Linked DNA regions of Homo sapiens: regions 2, 3, 4, 5 and 6 are each reported to be linked to region 1. Evidence: microRNA targets listed by miRTarBase, many of them from high-throughput screens and not tested one by one. Region 1 holds a microRNA gene; each other region holds the end of a gene's coding sequence.
What was found. Region 1 holds the annotated microRNA hsa-miR-4756-3p (CCAGAGAUGGUUGCCUUCCUAU, at 1,442-1,463, shown strand). A microRNA usually pairs through its seed, bases 2 to 8, with sites in the 3' UTR of a target mRNA and lowers its output. Matches are read on the target gene's strand: a 7mer-m8 pairs with bases 2 to 8, a 7mer-A1 pairs with bases 2 to 7 and ends in A, and an 8mer does both.

Region 2: miRTarBase lists FAM81B as a target of hsa-miR-4756-3p. Seed matches in the 3' UTR shown: 7mer-m8 at 1,129-1,135.
Region 3: miRTarBase lists MEAF6 as a target of hsa-miR-4756-3p. Seed matches in the 3' UTR shown: 7mer-A1 at 1,006-1,012.
Region 4: miRTarBase lists TEX261 as a target of hsa-miR-4756-3p. Seed matches in the 3' UTR shown: 7mer-A1 at 3,672-3,678.
Region 5: the mRNA of SMIM19 is a reported target of hsa-miR-4756-3p. Seed matches in the 3' UTR shown: 7mer-m8 at 1,811-1,817.
Region 6: miRTarBase lists SLAIN2 as a target of hsa-miR-4756-3p. Seed matches in the 3' UTR shown: 7mer-m8 at 3,358-3,364, 7mer-A1 at 1,793-1,799 and 7mer-m8 at 1,402-1,408.

The regions. Positions count from the first base shown.
Region 1 is chr20:54,064,890-54,069,880 of GRCh38, reverse strand. It overlaps MIR4756 (microRNA 4756), which reads left to right and starts at 1,396; the gene lies at 1,396-1,473. All of the region lies in intron 1 of BCAS1 (brain enriched myelin associated protein 1), which reads left to right. RefSeq lists an enhancer at 1-568.
Region 2 is chr5:95,449,230-95,454,220 of GRCh38, forward strand. FAM81B (family with sequence similarity 81 member B) reads left to right here. Exons shown (of 10, transcript NM_152548.3): 10 at 920-1,212. The coding sequence ends at 1,053. Among named protein-coding and RNA genes, the nearest start is that of FAM81B, 60 kb to the left of the region's middle.
Region 3 is chr1:37,490,065-37,495,055 of GRCh38, reverse strand. MEAF6 (MYST/Esa1 associated factor 6) reads left to right here. Exons shown (of 7, transcript NM_001270875.3): 7 at 949-4,991. The coding sequence ends at 957. Among named protein-coding and RNA genes, the nearest start is that of MIR5581, 8.4 kb to the left of the region's middle.
Region 4 is chr2:70,984,229-70,989,219 of GRCh38, forward strand. TEX261 (testis expressed 261) reads right to left here. Exons shown (of 6, transcript NM_144582.3): 5 at 4,687-4,789; 6 at 1,714-4,487. The coding sequence ends at 4,372. It overlaps ANKRD53 (ankyrin repeat domain 53), which reads left to right. Exons shown (of 6, transcript NM_001115116.2): 6 at 383-1,271. The coding sequence ends at 1,072. Among named protein-coding and RNA genes, the nearest start is that of ANKRD53, 8.1 kb to the left of the region's middle. RefSeq lists an enhancer at 106-653.
Region 5 is chr8:42,551,302-42,556,292 of GRCh38, forward strand. It overlaps SMIM19 (small integral membrane protein 19), which reads left to right. Exons shown (of 4, transcript NM_001135674.2): 4 at 1,243-3,894. The coding sequence ends at 1,307. Among named protein-coding and RNA genes, the nearest start is that of SMIM19, 12 kb to the left of the region's middle. RefSeq lists an enhancer at 3,070-3,591.
Region 6 is chr4:48,421,458-48,426,448 of GRCh38, reverse strand. It overlaps SLAIN2 (SLAIN motif family member 2), which reads right to left. Exons shown (of 8, transcript NM_020846.2): 8 at 248-4,438. The coding sequence ends at 4,372. Among named protein-coding and RNA genes, the nearest start is that of SLC10A4, 59 kb to the left of the region's middle.

The sequences.
Region 1 (4,991 bases):
ACCAGTTTCCTGCCTGGAAGAGTCATTGCGATTAGAATGCGGGTGCGCTGCAGCCACACCGCCAGATGCCAGCCCCAGCTCCACCCTGGGCTGGCTGGGTGCCCTGGAGCAGGTTCCCTCAGCCCTCTGGGCCTCAGTTTCCTCATCTGTAAAGTGAACCTAATAACAGTACTGAGATCAAAGGGCTGAGAGGACTCTACTGCCCGTAAATACCTGTGCACTTAGTAACTCTTAGCTGTGGTTCTTGTTTTCGCTGTTACCATCGTCTCCATTTTACAACTAGGAACATGAAGCTGGGTGAAGAGGGAGCTGCATCTGGTTCCAGGTCTCATGGAAAGGATGCTGTGGAACTGGAGTCCAGTCGGGCCTGGGATGAGGGTGCAGCCAGTGAGACTCTCACCTTGGGCACGAAATGTAAGGGATGCCAAAAAACTCAGTCATGGAGATAAACGGTATGTTAACACAACATTTTTAAAAGTCAGAATTAATGGCAAGACACCCGTGATGAACAAACTATGAACATGTTACAGAAAGATAAGATCAGGAACAGCGGTAATTTTGATTTTCACAAATTTCATGTTAAAATACTATTCATCTCCATGGCTGAGCTTTTTGGTGTCCCTTACATTGTTCCCCCGGAGTCCAGGGCCTGATCCGCCTCAGCCTCCTGGGGATCCTGAGCTGATCACAGCAGCTTCAGGCCCTGGGTGTATATACTCAGGGTATGTAGAGGGTGCTTCCTCCTAAATAAAGACAACAGACGGGGCGGGGCATGCTAAAGTAGTTTCTCATTTAAGTGAGGGTGGGGGAACAAACCAATGTCCCAAATCACAGAAGATTCTTTTTTTCCAAAGAGTTCTGGAACCCAGAAGGGTTTTGTTTTTAGGAAAAAGGCATGAGCTTTGGGAAAAGCAATGGGCCCGTTAAAGCCCATGGATTCTGCCTGCTTTACCATGACAAGAGATGTGGAGGGAGAGGAATTGAAAAAGGCTTTGGGTTGGGGGCGGGGGTACCTTTGCACCTTGCAGGCTCATCTGTCCTGCTGGAGTATTAGATGTGACTTGATTGTCTCTGTGTCTGCAGCTTCTCTTCAAGCCAAGTGCCCTGCCCTGAAGCAGTTCAGGATTTGAGTGCCTGAGTCACGTGGACCCAGGTTCAAACCCCAGGTGTGCCTCCCCGTAGCTTTCTGACTGCTACTCTTGGGCAAGTAGGACTAGTAAGGTGCCTACCCTCATGGAGGTGACGTTCGTGAGATGAGGGGATGGCATTGCTCAGCCTTGGTTTCTTTATCTGTGCAATCAGGGAATAATGGGACTCTGCAAGGGAAAAGGAGACAATGTGTGTGAAGTGCCTGGCACCAGGGTCAGGGCAAGGGTGAAGCCAGTGAGCACCTGGGGGATAAAATGCAGGGAGGCGCTCACTCTCTGCTGCCGATTCTGCACCAGAGATGGTTGCCTTCCTATATTTTGTGTCCTGCTATGCTCACCCTGGTGCTGCCTGGCACATAGTAAGCCTCCAATTAAAATTACCTGCGATTATCATGCACTTAACAATGTTTGGTGCAATAATAAGACTATGAGAGCGAGCTCTAAGATTTTTAGGATTACCATCCGTTTGTGCAAACATAATTAAGTACTCCGAAAGCAAAACATCAATCACCAAGCAGCCCTAAAACATCCAAGGTGATTTTGATCAAGGCACCCCTGCCCCTGGACCCACAAAGTCCCATACCAGGAATCAGGGCTTGGGCAGTTCAGTGAGGACTGGATTTCAGTTCCCTGTGTCCCCTTGTACAGGAGGCAACCTGTAGCACTGTACCTGGCACTCCTGATAATAGCTGCCGTGTTCCTAGCACTGTGCGGGCACACACATGGAGCTGCAGGACTGTGGGGCAGGCAAAGCGGGGTTGTTCTTTCCTCCTGCAAGGTCTTTACTGATGTTGGGGGCAGAGGGCTGGTTCTGCTGGGTGTGCCAGCCTGGCCATGTTGGCGTCACCCTCAGCTGAGCAGTGAGGAGGGCCCCTGGGTTACCTACATTCCATTGCATTGATCGAAGGTGTTGCTTGTTTACTTGGTGACTAATTCTGTCACCATTCCACCCTTCAAAACCACCCCCCCTCCCATTCAACAGTCGTCTAGCTGCCTGCTGGTGATGAAGTTTCAGAAGTGCTTTCTCCAGGCCAGCTTGCATGGGGTTTGGCGTTTGGCCTGTTTCCAGGAGGAGGGCCTATTATTAATCTGTAACTACAAGGAGGCGACATGGACCATCAATCACTGTGTAAAAGAGGAGGGATTTGAGGGCAGCTTCCAGGAGGCCAATTCACTCATGGATCAGAACACAGAACTAACTCAATTATAACAATAATAAGATAAATGAATAATATTAGCAATAACTAACGTTTACTCACCTGAGTACTGCCAAGCCCTGGCGCTAAATCCTTACAGTGATTATCAGTGACCCTTCAATTGTTCAATCCTCACTTTATTTGATTTATTTATTTACTTATTGAGAGAGTTTCATTCTGTCGCTCAGGCTGGAGTGCAGCGGTGTGATCTCGGCTCACTGCAACCTCCGCTTCCTGGGTTCAAGCGATTCTCCTGCCTCAGCCTCCCAAGTAGCTGGGATTACAGGCATTGTGCCTCCACATCTGGCTAATTTTTGTATTTTTAGTAGAGACAGGGTTGCGCCATGTTGGCCAGGATGGTCTCAAACACCTGACCTCAAGTGATCCACCCACCTCAGCCTCCCAAACTGCTGGGATTACAGGCATGAGCCACAGCGCCCGGCCTAATCCTCACTTTAGATTGTACCATATATATTCCTTGCCTAGTTATAATTTTCTCATTGCAAGAATGAATATGCAGGAAATATTTTCTATTCCATGTTCTATTATATTACATATAAATATTTCATAAAACTATAACATCACTTATACAGCAGAAGAGACAGTAGAAAGTATGAAAATAGAAAAGTTAAAAGTCTAAACTCTGGACTTGAGTTTGCGAGGGTTAAGTCCTCATTCTCCCACTTACTAGAAGATGATCTGTATTAGTCAGCTTGGGCTGTGGTAACCAAAACACCACAGACTAGGTGGCTTAAACAACAGTCATTTTTGTTTTCTCATAGTTCTGGAGGCTGGAAGTCCAAGATCAAGGTTCTGGCCGATGCATTTCTGGTGAGACCACTCTTTCTGGCTAGCCAACAGCTGCCTTCTTGCTGTGTCCTCACACGGTTGAGAGAGAGACAGAGAGAGCTCTTTGGTGTCTCTTTTTATAATGACACTAATTCTATCAGATCAAGGTCCACCCTTCTGATTTCATTTAGCCTTGATTCCTTAGAGGCCACATTTCCAAATGCAGTCATATTGCACGTTAGGGCTTCAACACGAATCCAACACGAATTTTGGAAGGACACATTTCAATCCATAGCATGATCTTAAGTGAGGAGTTTAAGTTCCCTGGGCTCAGGTTCTGCATCTGTAAAATGGGGACAATAAAAATACCTGCCTCGGCCGGGCCCGGTGGCTCACGCCTGTAATCCCAGCACTTTGGGAGGCCAAGGCGGGCGGATCACGAGGTCAGGAGATCGAGACCATCCTGGCTAACACGGGGAAACCCCGTCTCTACCAAAAATACAAAAAATTAGCCGGGCGTGGTGGCAGGCGCCTGTAGTCCCAGCTACTCGGGAGACTGAGGCAGGAGAATGGTGTGAACCCGGGAGACGGAGCTTGCAGTGAGCCGAAATGGCGCCACTGCACTCCAGCCTGGGCGACAGAGCCAGACTTCGCCTCAAAAAAAAAAAAAGAAAAAAAATACCTGCCTCATCGGGTTCTGATAAGGAAGCTGTGAGTTAACACAGAGAAGCATTCAGAGCAATGGCTGGCATAAGGTAGGCGCTACAAAAATATTAGGTATTACTACTGCTAATGTATGGTCCATTTTATTTACTGCTTATACTAACAGCTTATCTCTATTCCTCAGCTGCTGTGCACCAGCCACCCAGTTATACAACACATGGGCCACACCCTTCTAATCTTCACAGGAGCTCCACGCAAGGAATCTATTATGGTCCTTCCCTCCACCCCTCACTTCTCAGACACGGAGCCAGGGCTTATGCATATGGCCAGGGTGAGCCAGAGGGGAGCCCAGGCAGAGGGCTTGCGCTATTTCACCACCACAGACGAATTTACTCACGTGCTTTTCAGAAATGCAGATCCCTAGGTGACACCTGGCTACAAACACGAGGAGAACATCCCCAAGTCCAGGCACTAGAGCAGGGCCCCTCAATATCAGCACTAGCGACCCTCAGCAAAGCAGACAATTCTTCGCTGGGGGAAGGGGGCGGTCCTTGGCATTGCAGGGTATGTAGCAGCGTCCCCAGCCTCTACCCACCGGATACCAGTGCACGCCCCCCAAAGCTGAACCGTGACTATCAAAACTGCATGCAGGCATTTCCAAATGCCCCTTCGGGGCCAAAATCGCTCCTGACTCCAGAAACGCTGTGCTCCACTTATTGTGAGGGAGAAACAAAGAACAGCATATTTCCAAGGAGAAAACGTTTAGCAAAGCAATGTAAGTCATCGAGGAATAGGACAAGATATCCAAAATATGAAATATAGATATATAGTCCTGGAAAATTGGTACCAAAATAAAATACCCTAAACATTGTAAATATGTTATATATATAGTGTGTGTGAGATAGATAGATAAAGTAGATGATAGATAGATAGATAGATAGATAGATAGATAGATAGATAGATAGATAGATGATAGATAGATACTCATCATAAAGTTGAAATATTGTCAGTCGAACCATCATGAGTTGAGTTTGGGACATCTATATCACTAATAGCTACTAGGTGCTCGCCCTGCCAGGCACTTTCCCATCACATTTACCCCTTCGCACGGTACCACGATGTATCAGGACATGCCACTCAACCTCTCTGTGCTCCGGCTTCTCATAAGACAACTGGGAAAATAAAAGTACCTAAC
Region 2 (4,991 bases), not on the chromosome of region 1:
GGAGGACATGAGGGTCTCAATCTGCCAGATGTTCCTGGCATATAAGTAGAATTTGCTGCCTGGAAATTCAACCCTCACAATATACCCCTCCCACCGTCATATCAAAATAATGAATTATCTGGCCAGGAATCATGTCCCAAACTTAACTGGCCCTTCTTTTAAAGGCTCTGCTTTCTGTTTAACTATCAGAGGTTTAATTTTACTTATTCCATTAGTAAAACTTCAGGGTGAACTGAAAAGGAATTTACCACCTGCAAGTTCTTTCATTTTACTAATGAGGAGGAGTTCTAAAAAGGGGGAACTTCAAATTAATGGTTTGCTGCTTTATGCCTTTAATAAAAATGTGTTGAGAAACGACTCTGTGAAAGGCCCCAGTGAATAACAAATGGGTTGTGCCCTAAGGCCTTGAGGTTTGATAGGTCTGTGGTCAGGAGTGACTAGACATGCATAAGAGAGATACAAAGTGCTAGGAGGGAGGAGGGCAGCAGGGGGCCGCTGTTAGGTCCCTCAAATAGGCTACTTTCAGAGAAGATTTAAAATCTCATCTGTGATCTTTACCTTCAATTTGGTAACAAGACTGAAAAAAAATCACACAAGTCTCTCATCAAAGCATTCAGAAAGAATAAAATATTTTAAATTTCTCTCTTGCAATATAGAATTATGCAATATATTTGAGGAGGAGAAAAATAAATTTCACAATGAAACCAGATAACTAGATATAAGTTGAAACACTATTGTGAATGGATCTTCATGACATACAAGAAATATATTATGTACAATTTTAGGCTGGTCTTCATAGAATTTAATGCGCTTGGAATTAAATGATAATCAATTATGGCAGGACTGCCGATTAGCAACTTTTTTAAAAAAAAGCTCTAATGCATTGTTTAAGTGTACCTATTCTTTTACCCTCTTACAGGATTTAAATCAATTCATGACTCTCTCAGCTCCCTCCAACAAATACAGAAAACAAAGATGGATTTAGAGAAATATAAAGTACAGAAAGACCTAAAGAAATTACAGCGCAAGATAGTGGAACTCCAGGAAGTATAAACCTTTTCAGTCATCTTCTTTTTCATCAGCCAATGGAGTGATTTGTTGGAAAAAGTTCTGAAGAAGAAAGTTACTATCTCTGGGATGTTTACTGCTTCTAATGTCTCCTTTTAAGGAGACGAATGTACCAGAAAAATAATAAAGCAAAGAAGCTTCGGATGTCTTGAATTTATTAATGAAAAAACTAAGAAATTTCTTTATATAGCTGCCTTTATGTATATATATACCTATAAATAACGAAAGAGGAATCTACATAAGGTACATGAGTGAAGTAGGCCAGCTGTAATATATTAAAGAATGACAGGAGCTCTGGCAAATTGGAGAGCACTTACTCTGTCTAAAAATAATAGCTACTATGTAGTGACAGTCCATGACTAACATATATATATATATATAAAATCCATTATTATCCAAAATTCCACTTTTCAAGAGAAATTCCTCTATTTTTAAGCTTTAGCAACTAGTTCAAAATAGTTCTCAAACTATGTGAGATACGCCTGTGGAGCAGATATGACCTAGTGGTCAGTTTGCAACTTCTAATCTCAATGTTTGTAGCAAGTCTAACTTATGCATATTTAAAATATATTTTCCTTGTACTCAATATGTACCAGAATTATAAGCAATTAAGAGCCAAACCATGCAAAATAAGAGAATACAACAGTTTCCATGAAAACATATCCAACGTAATTTGACCTAGGTGCTAAATTCAGAAGTACTTCAAAAATGCTAGTTTCCTATACAATTAAAAATTGTTGGCCAAGTGCAGTGGCTCACACCTGTAATCCTAGCACTTTGGGAGGCTGAGGTGGGTGGATCACTTGAGGTCAGGAGTTTGAGACCAGCCTGGCCAACATGGTGAAACCCCGTCTCTACTAATAACACAAAAATTAGCCGGGTGTGGTGGCGTGCGCCTGTAATACCAGCTACTCGGGAGGCTGAGGCAGGAGAATCACTTGGAACCCTGGAGACAGAGGTTGCAGTGAGCTGAGATCACGCCATTTCACTCCAGCCTGGGTGACAAGAGCAAAACTCTGTCTCAAAAAAAAAATTGTCTAACTTTTCTAGATATAAATATTAAATATAGAGCCTAATATTGAGCAGTATATTCATGAAACATAAAAATGAACTATTCAGGATATGCACTCGGCTATAACAAGGACTAATTTCTAATCACAGAACTTATGTAAGCTTGGCAATGGAAACTTTGCTTCCGACTTAGGCTCCTTCCTTGGCTTAGGGAAGAAAAGTGACAACTTCCTCCCCTAATACAGAACAAGTTTACCTTCTGAGTAAATTTTTGACTAATGCTCACTTCTGTAATGTTTTAACTCTATGAAACATCTCCTTTTATTGCTATTAATAACCCACATGCAGCATCATTGAGTCTATAACTGAAGGGATTTTCATAGCAGAATTTAATTTAAGAGTTTAAAATGCAGTATGTTCAGTGATGATATGGTATCCAACGAAAAAGTAAGAAATATTAAAATAATGCAATGGTAAGTGTCCTTTGTAACCAAGTATCATGCTAAGACAGAGGGCTAATATCCCAAGTAATCCCAAATAACTTTTACAAGTAAGTAAGAAAATAATCAATTTTTTTTCAAAATGGGCAAAGGATATGAACAGGCAAGCCACAGAAGAATATAATAATATGAAGGTATGAGAAGATGTCCAACTTTACTGTTAAATAAATAAAAATTAAGAAACCCTTAGCTACTATTTTCAAGATTGGCAAAGATTAAAGTGATTGATAATACTGGGCTGGCAAGGGTGGAGAAAGAGTGCACTCTCATACATTATTGGCGAGTCTATAAATTGGTACAATGATTTAGATGGCAATTTGAGAACATCTGTTAATGTTTTTAAATGTAAATATCTTTTGATCCTGCAATCCATGGCTAGAAATTTATATTACCGGGGGAAACAACTCCCAAAGTGTGCAAAGATATATGAACAAGAATGCTCATTATAGCATCATTTGTTATAGTTAAAAAAAAAAAAAAAAGGAAAAGAAACACCAAAACCAGAAAACACCCAAATATAAGGAATTGATTGACTAAATGGTATTAACAAGACCACTCCCCCCACCACCCAATGCTGGACAGCCCTTTAAAAAGAACACAGAAAGATGTCCAAGATATACTGTTAGGTGAAAAAGACAAGTTTAAAAGCAATATGGATATGATCCACTTTTGTCATAAAATGTTTTAACTAAGTTAAACATAATATGCATATACTGTATGCCAAAAAAGGTAAGAATTTACAACAAACTTAGTGGATTCTATTTTTTAAAAAACTTCTGTTTTCTACATTAAGGATTTATGAAAGCTTTTATATTTTTATATAATATTTTTGTTTCTACTAAAAATATTTTATAAAAACAACAACAAATATAATAGGCTGAAAGAGTAACTCTTTGTAATGAACTAAACAAATGATTGTAGGGAGGGTTAAATTAGGAATTAATACAGACTAAGAGTCAAGTCATCTCACTCTCTTTTTGCTATACAGACATAGCTACAAAAGCAGAGAGGATACACAGCAACTGAAAAAAATATACATTTTCTCCTTGTTCTAAATGTTCTAATGTTCTAAAATGTTCTAAATTAGATTGTAGTTCAAATAATAGTGTAAAATCAGGCCAAAAGTTTTCCAACAATAGATCTTTCATTGCTCTTGGCCAGGACAGTAACATGTGGGGCAGTAGATCAAAGGATCAAAGAATCCTCTATCACCACTCTTCTACTTGGGATGCCAAATTGAGGTGTTCACGGGTTTGCACAGACTCTAGATAGTCAAAGAACTATGCTCATTGAGCAGGTGGATCCAGGTTTCTCAGAGTCTAAAGCTTATGATGTTTCAGTTTGTTATTGATGTACTGTCCTGATGCCAGATGAGTTAGCACAGAAGTCTATAAGAATATTCCTGGAAGCCACTCCTAATCAGGACAGCTAGTAGTAACTCAACACAGAAGTGACTGTGAACAACATGAATATATCCCTGTAATCCAAATGTATCCCCAACTCAACTTCTCTTTGTCCACAGCCACTTCAGCACCACCCGACATCAAGGGAAGTGGGAGTGAAAAGAGGCAGTGGTCTTAATCAATGGCATTCATCAATTATGTTTAAAATGTCTTACTTCTGTAAATATGACAATGATCTTGTAAATACATGGCTAGAGCTCACGCAAGCAGGAGCCCCTGAAGCTTAAGAGCCATTGTTTCACAGTAAATTCACCTCTGTTCAAGGAACCAGTGGAGCACTGGGCCTCCCTCCCCTTGCATTTATTTTGACAGAAATCCAAAAAGATAAATAAAACTATCCTCCTAAAGAAGCTCAATATACATGGCACTTTATTCCATATCAAACAATATTACTTAATCCTTTGGGAAATGTCAGACTTCTCTTCCCACAAATATAGGATGATTGAGCACTGGAGAATCTGCAATCCAGATCCACGCTACAGACTTGAGGCATATGTTAAAATATGCTCAGGTAGTTTTTACTTTAAGTACAAACACCATTTAAACAGTCTTGAATAGTTAAGGGTCCTACTGCCCTTAAATTTCCTGTTGTTTCCTTCCTATTATCAACACCTGCTCTTAGAAAACATAGGAGAAAAGCCCCTTGACATTAGTTTTGACAATGACTTTTTGGATATAACACCAAAAGCACAGGCAACAAAAGTAAACAAGTGAGATTACATCAAATTAAAAAGTTTCTGCACAGCAAAGGAAACAATCAGCAAAATGAAAGAACCTATGAAATGGGAGAAAATATTTGCAAACCATATATCTGATGGGGAACTAGTATCCAAAAACATATAAGGAACTCAACAACTCAATAGCCAAAAACACAAATAACCTGATAAAAAAAATGGGCAAAGGACCTGAATAGATGTTTTTCCAAGAAGATATACAAATAGCCAACAGA
Region 3 (4,991 bases), not on the chromosome of region 1:
GCCGGTCACATACATTTTTAATGATGAAAAATTCCCTTTAATTAAATAATAAATTGTTAATACTAGCTCTTTTTTTTTTTGGACTGGTGAATTCAGGTGCTCTAATAAGAGCAAAATTGATGTTTCAATCCCTTTATGGACTCAGAAGGCAGACCATTTTCAGATGTGAAATATTGTACATTATATTTGGAATAGAATCTTTTTTTAAATTTTTTTTTTGTGTGTGTGACAGGGTCTGGCTCTGTCACCCAGGCTAGAGTGCAATGGTGTGATCTTGGCTCACTGCAACCTCTGCCTCCCAGGCTCAAGCCGTCCTCCCACCTCAGACTCCTGGGTAGCTGAGACCACAGGCATGAGCCACCACACCTGGCTAATTTTTGTGTTTTTTGTAGAGACATGGTCTTAATTTGTTACCCAGGCTGGTCTCGAGCTCCTGACCTCAAGTGATCTGCCCGCCTGGGCCTCCCTAAGTGCTGGGATTATAGGCCTGAGCCACCACGCCTGGCCTGAAATACAATCTTTTTTTTTTTTTTTTTTTTTGAAACAGAGTTTCACTCTTGTCACCCAGGCTGGAGTGCAATGGCGCGATCTTGGCTCACTGCAACCTCCGCCTTCCAGGTTCAAGCGATTCTCCCACCTCAGCCTCCTGAGTAGCTGGAATTACAGGTGCCCACCACCATGTCTGGCCAATGTTTTGTATTTTTAGTAGAGACGGGGTTTCACTATGCTGGCCAGGCTGGTCTCGAACTCCTGACCTCGTGATCTCCCTGCCTCGGCTTCCCAAAGTGCTGGGATTACAGGTGTGAGCCACTGTGCCTGGCCTGAAATATAATCTTTAGCTATAGAGCAGTCCCCTAGTAGAGTTGTTTATGAGATTTTTTTTTTCCTTTAGGGTCAAACAACTGTTCTGCCGAGAGTAAGTTGGGACTTTTGTTTTTCTTTCTTTAGGACTATTAGAAGACACATTAGTGCAGAAGCTTCCAGGCTGTAGAGCCCTGCTTCCCTTCTCTGACCTCACAAAGATAAACATCCTTCACCTGAGTTCGTGGCCATCCACCTCTGCTCTCCCAGACCCAGTGCCTGTGACTTTGAGTAGTTTGTTCTAAATGTGGTGACAAACAAGTCATTTCTGTAAGACATTGGGTCTTACTTTATGTCATTTTTAGTAACAGAACTGCAGGAAGATGAAGACAATGTTGTAATCCCAGCAAGTTGCTAACTGTGCGTTTCTCCCTTCTTAGAATGAATGTCTCCCCCAAAACTGGCTGGCACCAGCTTCATCTGTGATACCCTTCAAGAAATGTTCTCTGGTTTTGTTTTATGCTGAAAGTAGAACACAAGTCACATTTCAGATGGAGGCTGTAAATATCTGGCATTTTCTTATATTGTTTTATGTTTTCTTGTTTTTCTCTTGTTGTTTTTATCTTATTTTCTTTGGGGTTTTTTTGTAATGCCTTTGTACAGCTCATACTTTCCTGCTGACATATCTGATCATCTCTTTCATGCAGTTGCCAATATTCATAACTGAAAATAATCTGGTTTATCATAAGTAAAATGGGAAACTTGCCTCTGTTTTTTGCAAGGGGAGGTAAAGAGTGTTTAGTAATTACCTATCTTAAATCTTTCTGAGTTGGTAGTAGATTCATGTTCAAGGAACAGGAAAAATGGAAAAACATAAGTTTAAATCAGTTCTTTTTAAATAACTTTTTATTCTTTTGTATAAATAAAATTTCACAGGCTTCAAATTCTCATGCTTTACTTTTAAACCCGAGATTGTTTTTTCACTTATTTATTCATATCATGCCTTATGGAAATTTCTTTTTCTGTATTTTCTCTCTTTGCTGGTATTCACCTGATTAAATATTGCTCTAAAAATCACCATGGCATATGGAAAGTCTCAAAATTATACCAAAAGTGATAACTTATGTCGTTCTTAAGTGGAGTGAAAGGATAGCATCAGTGAGAGCCAGTGTTGCCCACCAGGTCTCCCTTTCTTGGAGGGCTTGTTGGGGCTGAGGAATCTGCTAGTAATCGTTACCTGCCTCTAGTGCTGTGGTGAACTTGCGACAGGGTCTGGCTGCACATTGGAATCACCTGAGAAGCTTTAAAATACTCATGCCTGGATCCCATCCCTAGAGACTGGGGTACAGCCTAGTTATTGGGAATTTCTTTAAAAGAGTTCCTGGGATTCTGATAAGAAGCCAGGTTGAGAACCACTACATTAGAAGACTGAATGGTTTAATTTACATCCTATGTTATGATTGGTCTAAGGGATAAGATTTGGGGTCTAACCTTTCCTTTCACTCTAGTTAGTCATAGTCCTTGACTTATGCCTATATCTTTGTAAGAAATAGTATGTTTCATTTGTGATAGTATTGGTAGGGCTGAATATGGATGGCATCTACTGTAAAACAAGTCTACCTTGTCAGATGTGCAAAAGCTTTCACTCTTGTTCTCAAATAAACTTTTGTGGGTTTTTTTTTTTTTTTTTTTTTGACTCTGGCTATTTAGATCTTTGACTGTGTCTTTGGTAGCAGAACTCCAGTGTCAGGATTTTTAAGGAAATAGTTTCTTATATTTAGATTATTCCTTAAAAAAAAAAATCCTAGAAGCATTCTGTATTTTTTGTCTGTTGGTCTCCTTTGCTGGGAGGGAGGAGTGGGATGCCTACAGTTTCCTTCCTTTTGGGGAAAGCACACAGCAGACCTTAAAATATTTTTGACTCTTGGGCTGGGTGCGGTGGCTCACACCTGTAATCCCAGCACTTTGGGAGGCCGAAGCGGGCGGATCACGAGGTCAGGAGATCGAGACCATCCTGGCGAACACAGTGAAACCCCATCTCTACTAAAAATGCAAAAAATTAGCTGAGCGTGGTGGCGGGTGCCGGTAGTCCCAGCTACTCGGGAGGCTGAGGCAGGAGAATGGCATGAACCTGGGAGGCGGAGCTTACAGTGAGCTGAGATAGTGCCACTGCACTCCAGCCTGGGCGACAGAGCGAGACTCCATCTCAAAAAAAAAAAATATTTTTGACTCTTAACAGTTTGAGATTGCTAGAGATGGAATAGTACTGCTCTGTTGCGCCACTGCACTCCAGCAGCCTGGGCGACAGAGCGAGACTCTGTCAAAAAAAAAAAAAAAAAGAAAGAATAGTACTGCTCTTAAAAAGATTATTTACGTATTTATGAAACTGCAGTGGGATGCCTAGTTTCCTTCCCTCTGAGGAAAGCACACAGCAGACCTTAAAATATTTTTGACTCTCATAGTTTGACATTGCTGGAGACAGAATAGTACTGCTCTTAAAAAGATTATTTAAGTATTTATATATTTTATTTATTTATTTATTTATTTATTTATTTATTGACAGGATCTTGCTCTGTCACCCAGGCTGGAGTGCAGCGGCCTGATCAAAGCTCAGTGCAGCCTCGAACTTCTGGGGTCAAGCCATCTTCCTGCTTCAGCCTTACTAGTACCTGGGACTATAGGTGCATGCCACCATTCCCAGCTAATTTAAAACATTTTTATTTTGTAATGATGGCTTCTTGCTATGTTGCCCAGGCTGGCCTCAAGCAGTCCTCCTGGCCTCAAGCAGTCCTTCTGCCTTGGCCTCCCAAAGTGCTGGGATTATAGGTATCAAGCAATTCTCCTGCCTCAGCCTCCCCAGTAGCTGGGACTACAGGCATGCACCACCATGCCCATCTAAGTTTTGTATTTTTAGTGGAGATGGGGTTTTGCCATGATGGGCAGGCTGGTCTCGAACTCCTGACCTCAGGTAATCCACCCACCTCAGCCTCCCAAAGTGCTGGGATTACAGGCATGAGCCCTGGCACCTGGCAATATAGAGTATTCTTGACATCTTGACCTGTGCAGTAAAGAAGATAATTAAAATGAGCGATAAATAGTCTAAGCTTGAAAGTTAAAGAGCCTAAGCTTGAAACACTCTGTGACTTAGTTTTTGCATTTATTCTGTCTTCTATGCCCCCCAACCTTACTCCAAATTAATGAGGCATTATTTTATTTATTTATTTTTTTGAGACAGAGTCTTGCTCTGTCGTCCAGGCTGGAGTGCAGTGGCACAATCTTGGCTCACTGCTACCTCCGCCTCCAGGGTTCAAGCAATTATTCCGCCTCAGCCTCTCGAGTAGCTGAGACTACAGGCGCGTGCTACCACACCCAGCTAGTTTTTTTTTATTTTCAATAGAGACCGGGTTTCACCATATTGGCCAGGCTGGACTCAAACTCCTGACTTCGTAATCCACCTGCCTCAGCCTCCCAAAGTGCTAGGATTACAGGCGTGAGCCACTGCACCCGGCCTAATGAGGCATTATTGCTTAAAAATTCACATCAAGCTGGGCATGGTGATATGCACCTTTAGTCCCAGCTGCTTGGGAGGCTTAGAGGCAGCAGGATCGCTTGAAGCCAGAAGTTCAAGGCTACAGTATGCTATGATCATTTCTGTGAATGGCCACTGCACTTCAGCCTGAGTAACGTAGCAAGACGCTGTCTCCAACAGAAAATTGACATCTGAAGCCTTGACTACAGGGGGACTATACTGGTTTATGTGAAGTGTGGGGAGAGAGCAGGATTGTGCTTCTTTGTACACATTTGCTTCTCCCAGGATAGTGTCATAGTGCCTAGGAAGGTGATGTGTGTGTCAGATACAATGATAGTGAAAAGAAGGGATTGGAATTTTCATACCTGTGTCAGTCTAAATGAGCATTACCTTGTCTGAATTGTCTAAGTGGTAAGCTTCGTGATTTGAAACAGTTTTCACTTTGAAAAACTGCTTCCGTGGATTAAAAGTTGTCACCACTAAAGTGGGCTGTGGTGGAGTCGATGCTGATCCTCACTTAGGGCAGTGGCCTCCAAGGGGAAGAGGGCACACAGGATGGCTGGGTGGGGGTGGGAAGAAAAGATTAGGCCTTTGATTTATATTCATTTTGAGGCTCAGCCTTATTTAGTTTCTCACTTTGGATGTATTTTATATATATACA
Region 4 (4,991 bases), not on the chromosome of region 1:
GAAGAAGGGAATTGTCTTTCTGTAAGACTTGAGGTTTTCCCTAGGGCAGGGACTGTGTCTCCCATGTCAAGTTGGAGTCTCACCTAGGGCAGAGGCTACATCTCTCCCATCAGATTGGAGATCCCCCCTTTGGGAGAGGTGCTTTGTCTCCCCACTCAGCCCAGGGGCTCCCTTATGGAAAAAGTTGTCTCCCCCATCGGAACACCGGCTCCCATAAGGCAGGTGTTGCTTCCATCAGACTCAGACTTTCCCTCCCATCAGACTCAGAGTTTCCCTCATCCTTCAGACTGTGGTTTCCGAAAGCTACAGCCACAGGACCTCCTTGCCCAGAAGCAGAGGGCAGCAGTCCTCCATGACTCTCTTGTGCCCTCTGTTGTTGCAGAAAGAGCACAAAATTCTCAGAGAAGCTGCTATCAGAAAGTGGCTCCACGGCAAGCTGCACCCAGGCCACTCTCTGGTCTCCAATACCAAGCAAGCCCGGGCCACCGCCCTCTCCAAGACCCCAGAGCAACGGGAATCGCAGCGTTCCAGGAGCTTCCACCCCTCTGTGGATGCACGCCTGCAATGCATTCCACAGCCCACGGAGATGCCCAAGCCCATCTACAGGAAGCCCACGGTCAAGCGGCCCACAATGTGGAATGTTAGCAACAACCCCGCCAGACCCCCCACCACCCAGATCAGCCACTCGCAGGGCATCCGCCTGGGCGTGCATCCAGACCCCACTCCGGAGCACGACTTCAGCAGCTTCCTGGAGGTGAGGCCTGATGGGCACGGCGGTGCGCGGCTGCACACAGTGGACGGCCACTGGGTGGCGCCCGTGCCGCGGCTGCCTTTTGAGGTGCTGCTGCGCATGCTGTACCCACGTGTATGGCCATACAGAATGAAGGTGCCCCAGGGCTTTTACCCCATCAGCATGAGGGAAGTGCCCAGGAAGCGGCACCTGGGTGACAACACCTTCTGGACCGACACTCTGGCCATGAACCTGCGTGACACATTCGATGAAGCCTTCCTGGCAGCTGTGCGATCTCATCAAGGACTCCCCACCCTGCCCTCCCCACAAACCAACCCATAAAGTTATTATGGCTACCTCTCCCCCTGAGGCAGCCCAGTGAAGGCTGAAGTGTGGCAATTCACGTTGTGGGTGGCGAGGAAAGGGGGAGGGGTGCCTATGGGCTTCCCACTCCCAAGCTCGAGGAGTCACCCTTCCCAATCAAAAGCCCAGACCCCAGGCCTCCCTTTTCTCTGCAAATAAATCTCTTGGCACCCCCCCACCGCCGCCAGGAAATCCAAGTTAGGTTGAGAGTGGGGGGTCAGACACTATTCTTCACCTTGGCATTGTAAAAGTTGTCACATTTTGGCACCCCCACTGCCCTCCCAGCCCTAAGGGCCCAGGCTTCCAGGATGGAAGGACCCACTGGGAAATTCTGTTTCTTGTTCAGATTAAGCCCTTCCTGCTGCAGGCTCTAAGCTGAGACCCAGAATGGGGTGGAGGGCAACTAATATGTCCCCCTGGCATGGGCTTCCCTGCTACTCTGGGCTGCCATCCTTATTCCCAGCGGCTACTGAGGTTTCTGCAGTTCAGGGAGGCATGGGCAGTACATCAAGGGAGGGGAGGGATGTGTGGTTTCCATTCGAGTCTATGAAAGCACTTGTACTTCCTCCAGGAAGTTAACTGGCTTCCCTGTATCCCCTTGTACACATCACTACAATTCATTCATTAAACAAACATTTATTGAGTGCTTTCTAGGTGCCAGGCACCAAGCCAGGCACTGTTAATACAAAAATTCCAACACAATCCTTGCCCTCAAGGAGCTTACAGTCTACTGGGGAGATGACCATTAGGCAGGCAAGTGAGCCCAGAGTGATCTGTGTAGTATGCCAGGGTGGGGGTCGGGAGGAGAGAGTATAGCCAAAGCTCCTTGGAGGAAGTCAAGTCTAAGTTGAGATTTGACAGAGAAAGTACCCTTTCTCTGTGACCAAAAGAAAGGAGGAATCAGAGTGGCAATGGAGAGCCACTGCATCTCTGGATACAGGAGGCTGGGACCCAGAATGCAAGAAGGCAAGTGATGAGACCAGAGAGGTGAGCAGGGACAAGGACACCATGAGTCTCACAAGCCATGCTGAGGGGTCCAGACTTTATCCTGAGGGCAGCAGGGAGCCAAGGAAGGTTTTAGGCCAGAGAGTGACTTGATCAACTATGCAATGCATTTTAGGAAGATAGCTCTGGCCACATGATAGAGAAGCAGTAGGAGGCTGTCACGATAATCCAGGTGAAAGCTGATGACAGTGGGAGTGGCTCAAATCAAGAGATGTTAAGGTAGACCTGACCGTTTTGAGAGATTGGATGTGGTGGGCAGAAAGAGAAAACAGGAATAGAATAAGTTTCCTGTCTGGCTCCTGAGTGATCTCGGGGTCAAGGGAAGTACCCAGAAGGGGCAGGTTTGCAGAAGACAGCAAGTACCATCTGGGCCATGGACCTGAATTGTCTGTGCACCTAGAGGGCAGCAAAACTGTGGTTCAGGTGATCAGGAAGGATGTTGGGGCTGGAGGTCAACTCTAAATTCCTCACCATCCTTGAAACCATCCAGATGGATGGGCTTCCCTAGGGAGCCCACAGCAGAACCCTGAAAGACCCTACTGTGCATGGGCAAGTGGAGAAGCCTGCACGGAAGCCTGAAAGGAACAGCCAGGGAGGTAGGACAACTAGCCACAGAGGTGCCAGGGAAGTGCCATCCAAGAAGCAAGGGGTGATCAGCCATGTCAAATGCTGCCCAGATCTAGTAAGACAGGAAAGGGGTCTGCTGGATTTAGCAAGCCCTGGGAGAACACTGGCAGTAGAGTGGAGGGGGCGAAGCCACATCATCAAGGTGAGGGACCAAGCAGCAGAGGGAGGAAAGTAGGGCCAGCTGTCAGCCCAATGGGAGGATGATGCAGGCTGCCAGTATCCCCTGCCTTGTCTATCCTGGTGTGCATAGGAGAAAAGGGCCTGGCAATCTCGTTCACACTAAGAGGAGACCAACATGTGCTCTTCCTCTCAGGGAAAGGGGAAAGCTGGTATTCTTAAGAGAAGGTAAATGCTAAAGCCAAGGAAATGAAGGGCTATGATGGAACTCCAGGCATGATATAGAGGAAATATTTTCAAGCACAGGGGTTTTTCCAGTGGCTTAAATGTATCACATGTGTACAGTTCATCTCTGTACCTGCCAGCCTCACTTTGAGGTATAGAACATGGCCAGAAATGGCTCTCATAGGGACTTCATTCCAATATGTACTGTTGAGCACTTGCAAGGCACTATAGTTGGAGTGCAAGGTCAACAAATGCAGGTCTGTGCCCAAGACCTGGCCTGCCTTCTTAGAAGGCAGATATATCTCCCCAGGAGCCAAGAGTGCACAGACGGGCCAGGGCTTGGATGCTCTTAGAGTGACAAACAGCTTCTCCCATTAGTCCCATTTCTTTAAAAACAGGCTGCCTGGAAGCTAATTTTTATTTTGTTTCTCCTTGAGCCTAAGATAGTATTCAGCCAGAAACCACTCCTTTTCCCAGAGGAAGATTTATAAATAGGATATTGTAGATGTTCTTCTGAAAATCTAGCCCAGTCCTAAATTGTCCCCTCTCCTACTCCCAGTTTGACAGTCACGGAGCCTTGGGGAAAGAGATGGAAGAGAGTGCATCAGAGAGGCTGCCTATAGCCCCACTTCCCACTCCTTGAGCAGGCTCAGCTCCTCACCCCTGCCCCCTTCCCATTAAGGGCCACAAGAACAGTCCCTTGGGAAGGGCAAGACCCAAACCCAGAAAAGGAGTCCCTGGAGCAGAAAAGTGAGTCCAGTCCAGAGCAGAAGGTTAGCAGGAAGAAAGGAAGATGAACTGTCAGGGTATTAAGGCAAACAGTGCCACCTAGAAGCGAAGCTTTATTCAAACGGAAATCTGCACTTGGACAGAAATCACCGTTCAACAGCAAAAACTATTTCTGTTGGACATGCCAAGCCATGGCCCCTCCCCATGGCCACCTGCCCAGAGAACTTGTCACCATCTGCTCTTAAGCTTCACAGACCCTGCCCTGCCTGCCCCAGCGGGGCCAGAACCTCCTGACCCACCTTGGAAGGGACAGGGGAGGACTGAGGGACCTCGGCCTCCTGGCTAAGCAGGCTCTGCCACCCTCCTTGGTGCCCTCTGAGGTTACAGCCTCTTGAAGCATCAGATCTGAGCCAAGCTGAGCCCCCCAAGGAGGGTGGGGATGGGGCTCCAGAGTTGAGGGGAAGAAAGCCAGGGCAGGTGGTAGGTGCCTTCCCGACTTCTGGTCCCCACCTGGCATAGAGGCCCAGGGGCCTGACTCTCCTGATCTTGCCCCCCACATCCTGCCTGCATGGGGGTCAGTATATCTTCTGACGACTGGGTAGAATGGCCTCTTTGATGAAGGAGAAGACAACCAGGATCCCTAAGCGTTTGCCCCGCTTGCCTTTGGTGAAATAATTGGAGACGACATCATCTGTGGAGATACAGGCAAGAATATGAGAGAGAGAGAGAGTGTGTGTGTGTGTGTGCGCATGTGTGTGAACACGGCCCTCCCAACCCCGAGTCCAGGTGTCTCCAACACAGGGCTAGATTCAGGTTCCCTCAGTGGACCCCTGCCAACCCAGGCCTTGCTGGCTTGCCCCCACCTGGGCCCCTTACAAATCCCTTCTCACCTCCTGGCTGCATGGTAGAGGGCAGGACGTTCTCCCCGGCCGAAAGTGACACAAAAAACGCAAACGGAATTATCCACAGGCAGAAAGTGAAATAGGCCAGGACCTGGCAACAAGAGAGACTGAGAAGAGGGTGCCCCGGAGGTGCCAAGAGTGGGCTGGGTGTGGTGACTGCGTGTTGGTCAAGAGTGCACAGGGGGCCACACCTGATCTCCAAAGGGGGCCCAGGCCTGGGAAGCAGGGAACGCCACCCTCAGACATGGAAATCCTTCTGTGGGGAAAGGTGGAGGCTGAAAATGACTGAATGT
Region 5 (4,991 bases), not on the chromosome of region 1:
AGCGAGACTCAAAAAAAAAAAAAAAAAACTTAGAAGAGATTGAAAGTTTTAAAGCTAAGCAGTGGATGACACAAAGATTTTTAGCCCTGTATTTTCTCTAGTTTCAAGTTAAGACAGTTTTTCTTCAATTAACGTTTCTTAGAAGTACAAAAAGAAGACAGAATTGCATATCTATTTTTTCTTCTAGTTTATATTGAAGACATTTATTATATGTTTAATCAACAATAAGCCTGTTAGGTTTTTAAGTTAAAATATAGTCAAATTCCTTATGTGTGGACAAAAGCATTATTATTAACTTTAAGATGGAAATGACAGGTAATAAAGGAAGAAATTACTAAACATTAATTTTAATAGCTTAGGTCAGGCATGATGGCTCACACCTGTAATCCCAGCACTTTGGGAGGCCAAGGCAGGATGATCGTTTGAGCCCAAGAGTTCAAAGACCAGCCTGGGCAACATGGTGAAACCCTGTCTATACTAAAAATAAAAAAAATTAGCTGGGTGTGGTGATGTCCACCAGTAGTCCCAGCTACTTGGGAGGCTGACGTGGCAGGATTGTTTGAGCCTGGGAGGTCAAAGCAGCAGTGAGCCATGATTGTGCCACTGCACTCCAACTTGGGTGACAGAGTGAGACACTGTCTCAAAAATAAATACAGTTTTGAAATTTTAATAGCTTAATGTTTATATTTTAAAGCTATGAATAATCCTGATACATGAATAATAATAATAAACATATAAAAATGGGCATCAGCAGTGTTGAGAAATTAGAGGATCATGAAGTGTAATACATCTTTTCCAAAGAAACAAAATTGTTTTAATTCTAGACTAATTACTTAGCGGGGTACAGTGGCTCACATCTGTAATCCCAGCACTTTAAGAGGCCAAAGCAAGAGGATCACTTGAGGCCAGGAGTTCAAGACCAGCCTGGGCAACATGGCGAGACCCTATCTCTGCAAAAAATAAAAAATTAGCCGGGTGTGGTGGTGTCTGTCTGTGGTCTCAGCTACCTGGGAAGCTGAGGTGGGAGGATTGCTTGAGCACAAGAGGTTGAAGCTGCAGTGAGCTGTGATTGTGCCACTGCACTGCAGCCTGGGTATCAGAGGGAGACTCTATCTCTGAAACAAACAGACAAAAACTAATTCTTCATTGAGAATCATGACTTGACTGTAATGTAATATTGTTAAGTAGTAATCATTTTGCAGTTTTATTAATTTTATCTCTTCTTTTTCTTGTTGTGAATAGCAAGAAAGTACGACTATCAGCAGCCACAAAACCAAGCTGACAGTGTGCAACTCTCATTGGAATGAAACCTCAGAAAAAGAGCAACAGAAGTAATTGTTTCAAGCTCCTGATTCTTTCTACTAAATCATGAACAGCTTTAAAAACATTTCTGTCTGCATAAAATTATTTTACTTGTAACTTTTCCCCAATTGTTCTGTGCATTGTTTTGCCTTTTTAAATTACATCTCCAAGTGGCTCAAAAGGCCTTGACACAGGGAACCTGCACATATCCAGGATATGTGTAACCAGCGATGGTGACTTGACCTTGCCAAGACCTGTGATTCCTTCAGGATACAATCAGTGAGAAATAAAAACACATCTTGGGAAGTGGGAATCCTGGAGTTTATGCCATTTGCAATATTAAAAAATAAAAATGCAAGTTATTATTTCAATAATAACTTCCTGTTTCATTGTATTCTGTGAGTGATAAGTGTCAGATCAATAACAGATTAATTTGTTGTTAACAGCTCTTTTTTTTTTTTTTTTTTTGAGACAGAGTCTGTTGCCCAGACTGGAGTGCAGTGGCACAATCTCTGCTCACTGCAACTTCCACCTCCCGGGTTTAAACGATTCTCCTGCCACAGCCTCCTGAATATTCTGTTAACAGCTCTTTAATTAATGATCTTTGCTTCTTCAGAACTTGTATGGTAGACCGTCTTTTCTACAGCATGATGCATACTCCTGTGCTAATTTTAGAAGCTTTCTGTAACTAGATTTTTCCTCATTATGCTCCCAGGAGCGAGTTTGTTTTTATCCCCGTTTCATTTCTACCAGGTAGCTCTACTTTAGGCCATACTGGGGACCTGCTGTTGAATAAATGGATGCCTGTGTATTGGTGTTGGCAACTCTGCGGTAGTAGTGCTACCACTGGCGAGGCAGTATTACTGCCACTGGTGAATGTTGCTGTCTGGTTACTGCTGCATTTTTGGCATGCTAAGCTTTCCTAAAGAGCCTCATATCTTTTCCCATGCTGTACTGTACAATGAAATGTTTTTACCTAATTTTTCATGTTTATTTAAATAAAAGCTGACTGGGTAATAGTGGGGAAGTTTAATTGTCCACATAAGTCAAAAGAATCCGTTTTTGAACTAGAGCTATTTTCAATTATAAGAGTGAGCTGGCTGGGCACGGTGGCTCACGCCTGAAATCCCAGCACTTTGGGAGGCCAAGGTGGGAGGATCACGAGGTCAGGAGTTTGAGACCAGCCTGGCCAACGTGGTTAAACCCAATCTCTACGAAGAATACAAAAATTCGCTGGGTGTGGTGGCATGCGCCTGTAATCCCAGCTACTCAGGAGGCTGAGGCAGGAGAATTGCTCGAATCTGAGAGGTGGAGGTTGCAATGAGCCAAGATCACACCACTGCATTCCAGCCTAGGCGACAGAGCAAGACTTCGTCTCAGAAAAAAAAAAAAAAGTTAATAATGGCTTCAAGTATTTCATTTTCCCCTTATTGTGAAATAAACTATATACATTTTAAATGGAAATTAAGGTTTAGACCAAATAAAATCATTCAGGGAAATTGCATTTACTTTTAAAAATGTGTTGTTCAAAAATGTATATATAGTACAAAGTGAATTGACCAAACAGAATAATTCTTAACTCACAAAGGAGTTTGAGCGCACTTCCTACATGTTGAATTTAAATCTGACTAAAGGATTGTAAACAGTTGTAATTATGGGTTGTAGTAACAGAGCAACAAGGGGACAATCTTCTAAACTTGCCTTTGCCTAGGAGAGCTACTGTATATTTCCACAAGTGAATTTAATCAGCAGTAGGAGTGGTTTACTCGTCACTGACATGTGGCACAATCTGGACAAATTACACAAACTGGCTATCTCAGATGTGTAAAATTAATGTACATAAATAAACGTAAGTCACACAATGAATTTCCTTTGTGTCCACTAGATAGAGATGGTCCTAACTACAAACTAGTAGATTATTTGATGAGCATCAAGCCCTGGCAAGTGACAGGAGATGAATTCCTCTCCGTTTTTTCCTTAAAGCAAACTGATGGGAATTGCACACACCCCACTGGCAGGAACAACAGCAAGCCGGCTTTGAAGTCTCTTCCCTGCTTCAACAGCTGAATTGGGGAGAGCGCAAGCCCTGCAGCCACACTTCAAAGCGGCGCTGACTGGCTGTCCTGCTTCTACCCAACATCCACCTGAGACTCAACAGAACTGTTTTCTTTGGAAGAAAAATGGAACTACTAATAAGCTAGTAATTAACCCTTGTATTCTTTTTCTGGTTTCATCTTCCTGTTTTAATGTGTAAGATATTCAGCAGTAAGCACTGGTCAGCCTGCCCTGGTGCACAGCTTGAGTGTGTTAAATAACTGGCTGTTTAGCTGATGCCAGCCAGCTGCGTGAAGGGGAGAAGGCCGCCTCCAAGGACACAGATGTTTGCTGTTGACCTCACGCTGTGTCTGGTTGAGTTATTCATGATTCATCAGAAAATGACATGCAAGGTTTATGGTAAAACTGCTGTACAATCAGAAGTATTTTAAGTATGCATTAGAAGTAAGATAAAATAGTAATAAAAATAGTTTCAGATGTTAAGATGATACAAGAATAAATTTAACCTAGAAAATAAAGGGAGAAGGAATAAAAGAACGTGGTATAGAGCCAAGTAATTCATTCAGTGGTTGGTTCTGGAGTGTTTCCCCTGTGCTTGCTGTATGTGATCCTCTTTCATAGGCTATTCTAATAGCGGAACTAGAATAAGAGGTGCCAGAAAACCAACGGAAATAGGAAGGGCACTGAGCTAATCTCCAACATGTTCACAACAGTGAGGACCAGAGGGCAGGGGCTGGAGCTCCGTGAGTGTATTTCCCACTTGGCTCCTTAATGAAGCCAGAGCCAAACTTAGACAAAGCTATAAAGCAGGAAAAATGTCCCACCTCTCCCTTTTACATCCCTCTTTATCGTCCCATAAGCCTGTGACTGAGACAGGTCTTGAATGAGGATTTAAGAATGGGAATGAGGAACTCAGAACTAAGGTGGTGAACCCTACACACCATAGCAGACATGCAAACTTTCTTTGACCTCTAACCCCAAATAAGTGGCATTCAGCATTGGACCTTATACAAATGAAACTGCTACTTTTATTTTATTTTATTTTATTTATTTGAGACGGAGTCTCACTCTGTCACCCAGGCTGGAGTGCAGTGGCACCACGTCAGCTCACTGCAACCTCTGCCTCCTGCGTTCGAGTGATTCTCCTGCCTCAGCCTCCTGAGTAGCTGGGATTACTGGTATGTGCCACCACGCTGGGCTAATTTTTGTAGTTTTCATAGAGACGGGGTTTCGCCATGTTGGCCAGGCTGGTCTCAAATTCCTGACCTCAGGTGATCCACCCACCTCGGCCTCCCAAAGTGATGAGATTACAGGCATGGCCACTGCGTCCAGGCTTACCTTTATTTTATTTAGATATAGTAAAAAACTAAGACCATTTGTGGAGGTTAGTAACACTCCACAATCCAGATAGGAAGGTGGGGTAAGTCAAAGGGAGGCCCCTCCCTGGCCCCAGTTTTGATGCTGAAGGAACACTGCTTTCACCTCCTTCAGGGTGATGTTTCTAGCGCTAGAGTTTCTTTTCTTCCAAATGGAGAAGTGACAGAGGTCTCACTGTTAGGAAAGAGTGACTCTATCTCTGGGGTTTTTATTTATATATATTTTGACAAATTTCAAACTAGCCAAAGAAAATTGAG
Region 6 (4,991 bases), not on the chromosome of region 1:
GGGAGGCAGAGGTTGCAGTGAGCCGAGATCATGCCACTGCACTCCACCAGCTTGAGCAACAGAGCAAGACTGTTTAAAAAAAAAAAAAAAGTATAAATTGTAAAAAACCAATTAATGTTATAAACAATACAAACAATACATACGATAGTTTTATCAAGAAATATCTAAAATCAGGAATTAAGATATATGCCAAGCTTTCAATAGCAGTTAATGTATACTTCTGTGCAAAAGCAAACTCATGTCAACATTTTTACATAAGAAACATTTATTTAAAAGAAACATTTTCTCCTTAAAAAAAAAAAGACCTTCTACCCTTCCACTTAACATGTCATAACCATGTTACGGACAGTACTTCAATATTTCCGGATTATGGGATTGCAGACAACTATCATTTTTTACCTTTATACTTTTTAATATTTTTAGTTTATGTTCTACAGCAGAGTTTCTATTACTTTCGAAATCAGAAGAAACAGATTTTTTTATTTCTTTTAAAGAGAAAACATTAAGATGACTTAATGTAGATAATTTGTTTCAAACTAGCATTCAGTTAACATAGTTTTAACCAGTTTGTATTACAGTAAATAAGGCCGATGAGTATAATCGGTTTCATTTTCAGACTGGTAAGCAGAGGGCCATTTAGCCACCCAAGACTTATATTTAGGATCATTCAAAATACATCAGTGGTTGAACCTCCATATGGGTTTTTCTGTTGCACTGAGTATATAACAGGTTTAAACTTATGTATTGATTTATAATACAAGTATAGTGACATTTAATTTTAAATGGCTCTTCAAGTTTTTAGACTGGCTTGAGAGAAAAAAACAGAAGGGTGTCTTTTTTCCCTCTCATCACTATTAATCTAATTGTAACATGTAATATTATTTTAATTGTAATTATTCTAATTGTAACATGTAATTGCAAAGCAAATATCTCCTAAAGGAATATGGAGAACTCATTAAACAGTGTACAATTCTTGATTTTTCCATCCATACAAGAAAAGATGCACGTGATCACCTAAATATTCGCATTTGGTATGAAAATGCATTAATTGTCCCTCTTGGAAACTCATAATAGCTTTTTGCTTGTTTTTTTCTAACTAGATACCATACATAGTTATGATCTAGGCAAATGCTAGCTTTTTATAACTAGGTATCAATTCACAGCAGGTAAAAAAGTTCCAAGAACAAATCAATTTAGAGTAAACTGTAAATTTCCTTCAAGTAAAATCCATATATGAAATAACTCTGACAGAGAAAATATAAGACATAATCCAACCCCATGAAGACTAAATCTGAAAGGGCAATATGATTTGGGTTTCTGTGGTTAAAGAAAAACTCAACTGAGTAATTTATTAAAACCAAGTGTAGGCAACTGAGAGGAAAAAAGGAATCTTACCATATCCAGAGATTAATTAAACACTTAAAGAATATAAATTTAATAATAAACATTATGGTCAGGCTGTTTATTAAGGAGGCAACCACATATACAAGTTCGGCTATAGAAATGTTTGCAAATCAAACGTCATGTGACCTTAAAGGACCATGCTTAACGTCAAAAATGGACACCTGTACATTCAATAAAAAGTTAATTTAAACATACATAGTCTAGATCATTCTAGAGTTATACAAACATCTGGGGCCACATATGTATCTAATTTTCTTTCAAAAAAACTTTTTTTTTTTATAAAAGTGATGTATTGAGATAATTTTAAAAAGTATCTGACAATTATGAATGGTCCCCAGTTTTACAAAATGTGATTTCCAGGATACGAAACTGAAAAAAAGTCAACTCTTCAGAGAGTGTTTTATATTGTACAAACAAGTTTTGTAGAAAAATGATCCAGCAAATGCTTGAGTTAAGAATATTTATATTTTTTCCAATTCTTTACACTTTTATTAACACACTTACAAAAAATAACATTCAAACACTGAGAAAATTAAATAACTTTGGAAGCAGAGCTCATTGTTTTCTGCTTACATATAAGTGACAATTCTGGGCTGTTGGCACAAAATAATCAACATTCATAAAACCCTTACTACTATATATCAAACATAAGTTAAAATCATAGGCACTAGTTTATCAAATCCACATTTCTTCTGTAAGACTAACCACAGTAAATCCTTAGATTTTCCCAAACAGAAAAATTGCAATATACAAAGGCTTTCTAGTAAAAAGGCAATTTTTCTCTTTAAGAAACTAAAAGTCAACAGTCTGTGGTAGTACAACAGCAGGTAAAATAATACTTTACCAAACTCAGATCAAAAATATGTTTTAACAAGTGATGAAATATTTTAATAAAAAAAAATAGACATTTTTTTCTGATGCAGCCATTTAAAAACAAAGTTAAATAACCTGAATACTCCTTTTGAAACTGATTATCTAACTTAAAAAATGTAATATGTTTCATAATAGGTAAAATTCCTTTTAATTATTAGATTGCAGCATATATATTTTTTGAAATGTTGCACTGAAAACTGAGACTTGTTCTGTTTTGTACGTGGTTTTTAAAAGAGACAGTAGCTACTTCTTTCTTTTACTTACTTAGACATGAGATACCCCCCTCCCAAAAGAAGATGCTTTATCTTCCTCTGAAAAGCAACATTTTTTAGTTCATTATCATGTAGAATTCTGGCGCCATCCTTTCCTGACCCACCCCATCACCCTCAAATTCAAGGATAAAGTTTCTTCCTTGCATTATACACCAAATACATAGTACTGGCAGTTTAAATCTCCAGCTGCTTGTGCTAAATGAATGACTCTCCACTGGTCAAGCTGACAGACTACCATGGTGTCAGTCATGACAGAATGGAGGTCCTGGTTTTAAGTTTTTATCATCAACCTATCAACCTTAATGCTGTCCAGAATATCAAGCCTTCTATTTCTCTCTCCCAATTTCTTTTGCCAACTTACGGAATGTCTTTGATTAACAGGAAATGAACTTATGTTCAAATCTCTAAAAGCTTTTAGATGACCTAAGTGACAATATCTTAGAGCTGTTCAAATTAAGTATTTAAAAACAGACCTCATAATAAAAAATGAGAGGCCTGCTACAGAAGCAAGTTTTACTCTGGTAAAAGTCTGATAAAATTGAAATAGCCGATTTCAAGGATATATTAAGAGCCATTAGAGAGCAAGTATCAGGTTAGAGTCATACGTAGTAGGGTTTTTTTTTTACCAAAAATGCAAAAATTGATGTAAGGCAGAATCTAAGTCAAAAGGAAAAGAATTTTCAATAGATGTTTTATACAGTTACTCAGTTTAAAGTGGATCAACTTAAGTAGGATTTAGCAGGCTATATTTTCCTACCACATAATAGACCGTTATGCCATGTAATAGCAACAATACAACTGTCATCACCAGAGATTTTGTAGGTTAAGTGCATAGATTTTTTTCCCCCTCTCTCTCATGGTATGGTTTTGTTCCAGGTTGCAAGCACCGAGGTGGTGTTGTATCAAGAATAAAGACACACACTACTTGTTCTTTCCTATCATGAAAACCTGCTAATAGAAACAAGATCTCTTAGTTCTGTAAAGATAACAGCATGTGAAGAAGTTGGCTTCAATAGCAAAGGCCATCTTTCCTGAGCCAGGAACTATAAAGTTCAGAAAGATTGTACAACTGATATTAAGCCCTTTTGGCAATCAAAACAAACACACACAAGTTTGATGTGTCAATGCAACATGATGGATACATGCTGTAACACTATCTGGTGGTGGTGACATGTGAGCTACATCCAAAACTTAAGATTAAATGACAATTTTTCTTTTCTAATGAATCTGCAAAAATCATTTCTGAAATTCTGCTAAATTTAGGAATGTTTTAATCTCTAGCCCAGGTTTCTTTCCTCCCACCCCCTAATCTCAATCTGTAGTTTCCTGGTGTACTAGTGAAACACTTTAGATAATTAGTCAGAATATTAGTTCTCATTAACACAAATATTTATTGATACTATTTATACAGTAAATTAGGTTGAATGTGAAGTTTTGGATAGCCTGAATTCACCATTTTCTTGTGCACAAATGGGCATTTTTCTCATTTACAAATGGGCATTTCTCTTTGGCATCCATTAGGTATTTGCCCAGATATTGGCCTCTGTCAAATATTTTTTAAAAATCAACCTAGTTTCTATTAAACAAAACTAAAAGTGATTCTATGGAGAGTGATTGTATGATTACCAAACACATCTGATGTTAAATGTCATTAAAGTGCTGTTTGATGATCTCTGTCGGTTTGTGCTAATTAAGACAGAGAGGGCTGGGATTTTATAAATCCCAAGAGTCTTATCTGAACAGTCTGCATATAAAAGTTGTTTTTTAGCCTGGTGAAGGGTATCCATGAAGCCGTGGACTTCTGCATTCTTGTCTTTGCTGGTCAGTAACAGCCATCTTTCCAACTGTCATCTTTCATGCTACCATAGGTTTTAGGAGCTGGCAAGGATCTGTAATAAAGCAATTTTGTAATTAAAATTTGATAAATGTCTTTATGAAATAGTACCATACTATCTCACACATATATTAATTACTCTTCAGGTGGCATCACGATCCCATGAAGGCCGTACCAAGTCCTAAGCTCTAAACAGGTACTAGTACAACCTCCCCACACTCTGCATTTTCACAACTTCCAAGTTTTACTGGGCACCAGATGACTTCCCATTTTGTTAACATAGCTACTAGATAAAAGAAAGGAAAAGATGGTCTCACCTTTTCCAAGCACACAGATAACCAACCTTATCATTTACTTATTATTTTGAGAGGCAGAATGATGAATGTGATATTAGAAGCTCAGTGTCAGCATCACTAGAAAGGCAGTATGGGACAGTGATTAAAAGAGCTCCAAAGTCAGACATACTTGGAACTCATAGTTTTATTAGCTATGTGGCCTTAGGCAAATTACTTAATTCCATTAAATTTCAATATCCTCTTTTGAAAAATAGAAATAAGAATACCTACTCATTTAATATTATTATGAAGATTAAACAAAGCAAGCATTTA